Homo sapiens: one gene and its partner. The protein of the gene in region 1 purifies or fractionates together with the protein of each later gene. This does not show direct contact. Each region holds a gene or a part of one and is shown in the gene's direction. Other genes may lie near its edges.

Region 1 (4,140 bases):
CCTGTAGTCCCAGCACTTTGGGAGGCTGAGGCAGGCGGATCACCTGAAGTCAGGAGTTCGAGACCATCCTGGCCAACATGGTGAAACCCTGTCTCTACTAAAAAAAATACAAAAATTAGCCGGGTGTAGTGGCACATGCCTATAATCCCAGCTACTCGGGAGGCTGAGGCATGAGAATCGCTTGAACCCGAAAAGCAGAGGTTGCAGTGAGCCAAGATCTTGCCACTGCACTCCAGCCTGGGTGACAGAGCGAGACTTCATCTCAAAAAAAAAAAAAAAAAGAGGCTGAGCACGGTGGCTCACGCCTGTAATCCCAGCAGTTTAGGAGGCCGAGGCGGGCAGATCACAAGGTCAGGAGATCGAGACCACCCTGGCTAACACGGTGAAACCCTGTCTTTACTAAAAATACAAAAAAATAGCCGGGCGTGGTGGCGGGTGCCTGTAGTCCCAGCTACTCGGGAGGCTGAGGCAGGAGAATGGCATGAACCCGGGAGGCGGAGCTTGCAGTGAGCCAAGATCGCACCACTGCACTCCAGCCTGGGCAACAGAGCAAGACTCCATCTCAAAAAATAAATAAAATAAAAAATAAAAAAAGAGCCCTAATCCCATCTGTGAGAGCTCTACCCTCAGGACTTAATCACCTCTTAAAGGCCCCCACCTCTTAATATGATCACATTGGTAATTAAATTGCAACACATGAATTTGGAAGGACACATTCAAACCATAGCAGTGTGGTAGTGGTATCATATCTATTGAAGGAAAATATCCTTGTTCTTGGGAAAGACACAGTTAAGTATGAAGGGGTAAAATGTCATGATGTCTGCAAATAAGTTGGCAAAAATAATGTGTTTATATACAGAGAGAGTGAGATAAAGCAAATGTGGCCCAAAAAAATGTTAATAGAGGATCTAGATGAAGTATGTATGGGTGTTCAGTGTATTCTTTTAACTTTATTGTAGGTTCAAAATTGTTTTAAATAGTTGTGGAGTGGAAGATGTGGTTCCCAGCCTCAGGAAACTCATGTGCCCATTTGGGATGAGTCGAGCACTTTATTGATGTCATAATAACATATAACTAGCTAATGTGTAGTGAACACTTAGGGCCATTCTGTGCACATAATATTTTTTCACTGAATTGTCAAAATAATCCTATAGAGTAGGGACAATCATTTTCCCCATATTATAGATGAGGAAACTGAGGCTCAGAGAGGTGACAGGACTCGTCCCAGTTATACAGACAGTAAGTTGAAGAGCAAGATTTGAACTCAGGCAGTGGCTGAACTGGCTCCAGAGTCCTTGTTCTTAACCATTTAACTCTACAACATTTTGGACTTGTTAAAATTGGCAGCTTTGCAAAAGAGAGACAGAGGAGAGAGAGAAACAAGAGTCAGAGGGAAAGATAGTGACAGAGATGGGCAGGAAGCCAAATAGGAAAAGCCAGGTAGCCAGACACACAGGAACCTCTGCCACTGAGTAGCCATATGTGCTTATGTCAGTCACTTAATTCCCTGGGCCTTGTTTTCCTCACCTGTTAAAGAGACACAGTAGCACTATTTCAGGAAAAAAATCAAATCTGCATGGCTACGAAACATGTGGAGAAAACCCCAAGTGCATGAGAACTGGGACGAATGCCAGTAAAGCAGAGAGACAGACAGAAAGACACCCAGTAGTCTGGCAGGAATACATCTTTAAAAGGTTATCTTTTTAGGCCAGGCGCCGTGGCTCACGCCTGTAATCCCAGCACTTTGGGAGGCCGAGGCGGGTGGATCACCTGAGGTCAGGAGTTCGAGACCAGCCTGGCCAAACATGGCGAAACCCTGTCTCTACTAAAAATACAGAAATTAGCCGGGCGTGGTGGTAGGCGCCTGTAATCCCAGCTACTCGGGAGACTGAGGCAGGAGAATTGCTTGAGCCTGGGAGGCGGAGGTTGCAATGATCCGAGCTCGTGCCACCGCACTCCAGCCTGAGTGACAGAACTAGACTCCATCTCAAAAAAAAAAAAAAAAAAGCCCTCTGTCTTATTTACCAAATTCCTGCACAACATCGGTCTGTTTCTGAATTCCTGATTCTCTTACGTTGATCTATTTATTAAATTATAAGCCAATTCTATGTTGTTTTAATCATTGTAGTAGTTTGTTTTCTGTTTGTTTGTTTGGTTTTGAGGGTTTTTTTTTTGTTTTTTTTTTGAGACAGGGTCTCACTCTGTCATCCTTGCTGGAGTGCAGTGGCCCAATCTCAGCTCACTGCAGCCTCCACCTCCCAGGCTCAAGCAATTGTCCCACGTCAGCCTCCTGAGTAGCTGGGCCTATAGGCACATGCCCCCATGCCCAGCTAATTTTTGTATTTTTTGTAGAGACAGGGTTTCGCCGTGTTGCCCAGGCTGGTCTTGAACTCCTGGACTCAAGCAGTCTGCCCGCCTCAGCCTCCCAAAGTGCTGGGATTACAAGCAAGAGCCACCGCACCCAGCCTTAATCATTATAGTTTTATGATATGTTTTCATGTTTTCCTTTTTAAAAAATTTTCTTGAATATTCTTGTTCACTTACTGTTCTTTTTATTTAATAAATCAGCTTATTATTCCATTAAAATCCTGACGGGAATTTGATTGGAGTCATATTTTTAAGAGAAACTAATCTTTCATTACCCAGTAAATACATTCTTATTAAAAATAAAAGCATTTTAAATAATGCTGAAGTCTCCTGGGAACGCTATGCCTAATCTCAATCCCCTACCCTACCCTTTTTGCCCCGAGGGAATCGGTTTGATGTGTAACTTTGCATGTCCTTTACTTATTTACACTCCCTACACACACATTTATCCACATATGTGAGTATATTCATATTTGCGTGTCTGTACACATAAACGGTATGTGTTTAACATAAGGTATTCTACACATTAATATGTAAGTGTCCAATATATGGAGCTATCATTAGACATATTAATGGCATTCTCATGATCATTTTCATGGCTGTGAAAGCAACAGACATGTTGGGACTGTTTGGATGGCCCAGTCCCTCTTTCTGGGAAAAAGCCAGTTTCTGTCACCTCTACAGTTGGGAGATTACAAAGCCTAGACCTTTGACCAATTTGTACTTTTCCGATATGAATCTTTTTTCTTTTTGAGACTCTCTTTGTCACCAAGGCTGGAATGCAGTGACGCAAATATGGCCCACTGCAGCCTTGACCTCAAGCTCTCCTCCTGCCTCAGGCTTTCAAGTAGCTGGGACTACAGGTGTGCACCACCATGCCCAGCTAATTTTTGTATTTTTTGTAGAGACATGGTTTTGCCATGTTGGCCAGGCTGGTCTCGAACTTCTGACCTCAAGTGATCCACCCACCTCGGCCTCTCAAAGTGTTTGGATTACAGGCGGGAGCCACCGTGCCCAGCCCCCAACCTCCTTTCTATCATAGGTACTGCAAATATTTTTCCCAGTTGATCTTTTGTTTTTTGGCTTTGCTTACGGGATGGATCTGTTTTGTCCTATCAAAATTAAACATTTGATTGCACGCCTACACAGATATCTATCTTTTTCTTTATGATTTCTGAGTTTCTCCTTTTTATTGCAGGTGGAGGGACAGAGTTTCACTCTCATTGCCCAGGCTGGAGTGCGATGGCGCGATCTCGGCTCACTGCAACCTCCGCCTCCTGGGTTCAAGTGATTCTCCTGCCTCAGCCTCCCAAGTAGCTGGGATTACAGGCATGTGCCACTACACCTGGCTACTTTTGTATTTTTAGTAGAGATGGAGTTTCACCATGTTGGTCAGGCTGGTATCGAATTCCTGATCTCAAGTGATCCACCTGCCTGGGCCTCCCAAAGTGGTGGGATTACAGGCATGAGCCACTGTGCCTGGCTGAGTTTCTCCTATTACTTTGGAACATGTTCCCCATCCATAAGCTTATACAAATATTCTATATTTTCTTCTACTATGCTTATTGTTTTCTTTTTTACATATAAATCTTTTCTCTGTCAGCATTGTGATAAGCAGACCTAGCTTTAAAAAAATCAAGATAGTCAATTATGCCAGCATCATTTTTTTTAATTTAATTTTTTTTTTTGAGACGAAGTTTTACTCTTATCGCCCAGGCAGGAGTGCAGTTGCACAATCTCAGCTCACTGCAGCCGCCGTCTCCTGGGTTCAAG
Region 2 (3,500 bases), on another chromosome or scaffold:
CTCCAGCCTGGGTGACAGAACAAGATTCCGTCTCAAAAAAAAAAAAAAAAAAAAATTGATTATATGTACAGCATGATTTGCTAGTCATTCAGAGTTTACCAGATTATACTTTTGAGCACACTATCTTTGCTGGAAGTTTAGTTTTTAATGTGGTGCTATCAAAATGCTTTTTTAAAAAATTTTTTTTGAGGGATAATTTGAATGATTTGTATGTATAGTAAATATTAAAATTAAAATGATCCATGAATTAAAAGATTGATCTTATTAAATAGAAGACTCCTCCAAGTTCTTAAAGGCTAGCGCATTCAAACTTTCTGAATTAGAAATAGATGCTAATCCTAGAAAGAGTATTAGTCATGAAAGAATACTTCCCTTAGGGATCCATTCAGATGCTCTAAATTATAAAATTCATTAGGAAAGAAGGAATATGTGCCAGTTGTTCATTTGTATTTACCATCTTTTGCTTGGCTTATAACCCTTGCCCTAAGTAATATGCGGATAAGGATTCTAATGGATGAGATTCTCTAATGAATGAGACTTAGTCTTCTATATTTAAGAGTCTGTAGCCTAAATGTCGTAAATCTATCAATGACCAGAAAGTTCATGCTGGCTTGTGAATTATAGTAGCAATAAGATGGCAAACTTCACCTTTACACATTTTGTAAGCCCTTCACTGGCTCCATTTCTAATGAGTTATTCAAACATCTTGTAGTTCTGAATTTTCATATATTGAATTTTCTCAAGATGGGAGTTCATCTATTTTCATAAATATTTACCTATTCAAATAAATATTTTTATAAAGTGTCTCATTAGAGCAAAGAATACATATGGATAAATGTTCCCTCTCCCTGCTGCACTTCAGAATTTTGGGAGTTCCAAAATGCTACTCTGAATCTAAAAATCGGCTTTAATGACTTTAGCTAAAATTTGCCATCAGCTGATTATTTAATTTTGTTTATTTCAGGAATAAATCCCTACAATAGGTATGATGTTCTCAGTTGTTTTCTTCCTTACTGAATTTGTCTAGAATTAATATTTGATAATGGCTAGTTTACTGTGGTTTACATGTAAATAATCCAAAGTCATGGGACGGAATCCGAGGTTTAATGTCAAAAAACCAGGATTCAAGTCTTGGCTCAGCCGTAGATTCCTTATGTTTTTAGCAAAACACTTAACTGAGCTTCATTATCCTCATCAGTGAAACACAGATAAAATGATTACCTGTGTTTTATAGAGTGCTGTGGGTCAACTATGATGATACATGCAATAGCAATTTTGAACTATAATGATGATAGCTTTATTGAGCATTGTTCAAAGTGCTTTGCATGTATTAGCATGCTTAATCCTCATAACAACTTGCTTATTATCCCCATTTAACAGATTAGAACACTAAGGCACAGAACTCGTTAAAAACATGCACAAGACCACACAGCTACGATTTAAACTGGTCTTGCTCCAGAGCTTGTGCTGGTAACCACTGTACCACTTTAGATTATGTTAAGGCACCAAACTGATGTAAATGTATTGAGAAAGAATTGTCAAGGGAGTAATTTGTCCAAAGAATATCATCTGAAACATTTCTGCTCTGTCCTTTTTTTCCCTGCAGTCATTCTGCTGACTGTTGTACTCAACTGTTGTTTTGTCAAGCGTTCAGTTTGCTGCTGTGGCATTTCCCCTAGTGTTGGCATGTTCTCTTCATAGCAGGATCAGTGAAAAGCTGCAGAGGAATTGGATGATAAAGTGGAAAGAACATAAAGACTTATTCGTTGGGTTCCCAGTGAGAACAAAGATGCTTCCTCATGGACCCCAGGAGTCTTTAGAATCTTTTTGGCTCAAAAGAGAAATCTGTCCCATAAGCAGTTTGTTAGAGTAGAATTTTTGACAACCCTGGCAGAGACTGAGGCTTGATAAGCCTCTGAGAATAAATCAGTTTCCTCCACGCTGTCCTGTGGAATAACGCTTGGCCATAGTGGGGTGGCACCTGCACTGCTACCATCTTGGCCTGCCTGTGGTGGCATCGGGGTCCATATGCTGCCAACAAGATGCCACCCTAAGATTACTTGTCCCACCTTTTTAAAAAATAGTTTAACTGAACCCTCACATCAACTCCATAAACAATATGGGAATTCCAGTGCCCAGTAAAGAATTTCATGTTTTTGGGTTGAGGAAATAGAATTGTTTAAAAAATGAATTGCTTGAGTGCTTTGAGTAAATGCGTAGAGAGGAAGATGGTTTTGTAGATTGCCTTGGGGCAGCCTACAGATGTATCCATGGCATGAAAACTGTTGACGCTGGGATTTTGGACAATGGAACCATGAAAGCCGGAGCCTGCTGTTTAATATCTTACCCAGAGGAGACGGACACCGGAGGGCACAGACCACATGCTGTTCTCACTTGTTTCTACCACCACTCCTTGCTCAGTTGCCTCTCGGGTTTGTGTTAGCCCTAAGCAAAGAGTTCATTGAACAGTACTTTTTTTGATGTTTTTAGACTGAGATAAGGAAATAAACGTTTTGGAAATGCTGCACAATCTAGAAAAGATTTTGCAGGAAGCTGCAATTGGCCAAGATGACCGTTGTGGTTCATAAGCAGCCTATGTGTGAGCAAACCCTTTCTAATGATTTCAACTCCATTCTTTATTCAGGGGCACTGAAGCTTCAGCAAATGGTTGCCCCGACCTTCCTCCTCTTCCTTGCAACTTTCAGGGTGACTGCTCACCAGGTCATCAGTCCTTTTGCTGGCATGGCTGGCAGTTCAAGGAAGCACTTACCATGCCTTAATTTCAGTGATGCATTTTTTTTTTTTTTAAATCTGGGCCTTGGTTAAAGACCTCCAAAGAAGAAAAAGGGACATTTTCTAGCTAACAGTTAAAATCATGTCCCCTGAACCCATGTCCAAGGGGAGGATCTGCAGGATCTTAGAGTCTGAGAGTCTCTTCCTCTTGCCCAAGTCCAAGCTCTGGATGTTGGAACTTTGCTGTGGGTTATTCACTTAACCTGCCAAGCAGTTACTCCCAGAGGCCATTTGGAGTATAACTATTTTTTAAGTGCTTAAAATAAGACTAAAAGTTACCAGATTTGCTACAAAGATACCCTTGCATATCTCCTGACTCCTTTTATGGAAAAGCAAATCTGGCTTTCTTGAGCTGCTAAATCTGTGGTTCTTGAATCCGTCCTTAGAAACATAGAACAGCTAGTGCCTAAGTAGGTGATTTATACTATAAAGAACATAGATAGGGCACTTCCCAATGATCCCCTTCCCACTGAAATACAGCAATGACAAACTGGATTGCTCTTTAAGTAGAAAATAAATGCACATCCCTATCTTATCTACTTTTCAACATCAAAGATCTGTACAACATTGCAGCATGCTTTAGTGAAGAGAAAAAAACCCAGAGATGTTATATTTTTATCTTATAGACATTTCACATAGGCCATGTACTTTATAAAATCTACCACTGCTAGTGAGTCGAGATCGCGCCACTGCACTCCAGCCTGGGC

Evidence for each region.
Region 2: the proteins of TBC1D25 (region 1) and DCLK1 purify together in Homo sapiens (affinity purification with mass spectrometry, with the first as the bait; one large-scale study listed by BioGRID). This does not show direct contact.

The regions. Positions count from the first base shown.
Region 1 is NC_000023.11:48,545,949-48,550,088, forward strand, and holds part of TBC1D25 (TBC1 domain family member 25), read left to right. Parts: intron 1-3,565; exon of another isoform or gene 3,566-3,696; intron 3,697-4,140. UniProt on the Homo sapiens protein: Acts as a GTPase-activating protein specific for RAB33B. Involved in the regulation of autophagosome maturation, the process in which autophagosomes fuse with endosomes and lysosomes.
Region 2 is NC_000013.11:36,107,383-36,110,882, reverse strand, and holds part of DCLK1 (serine/threonine-protein kinase DCLK1), read left to right. Parts: intron 1-3,500.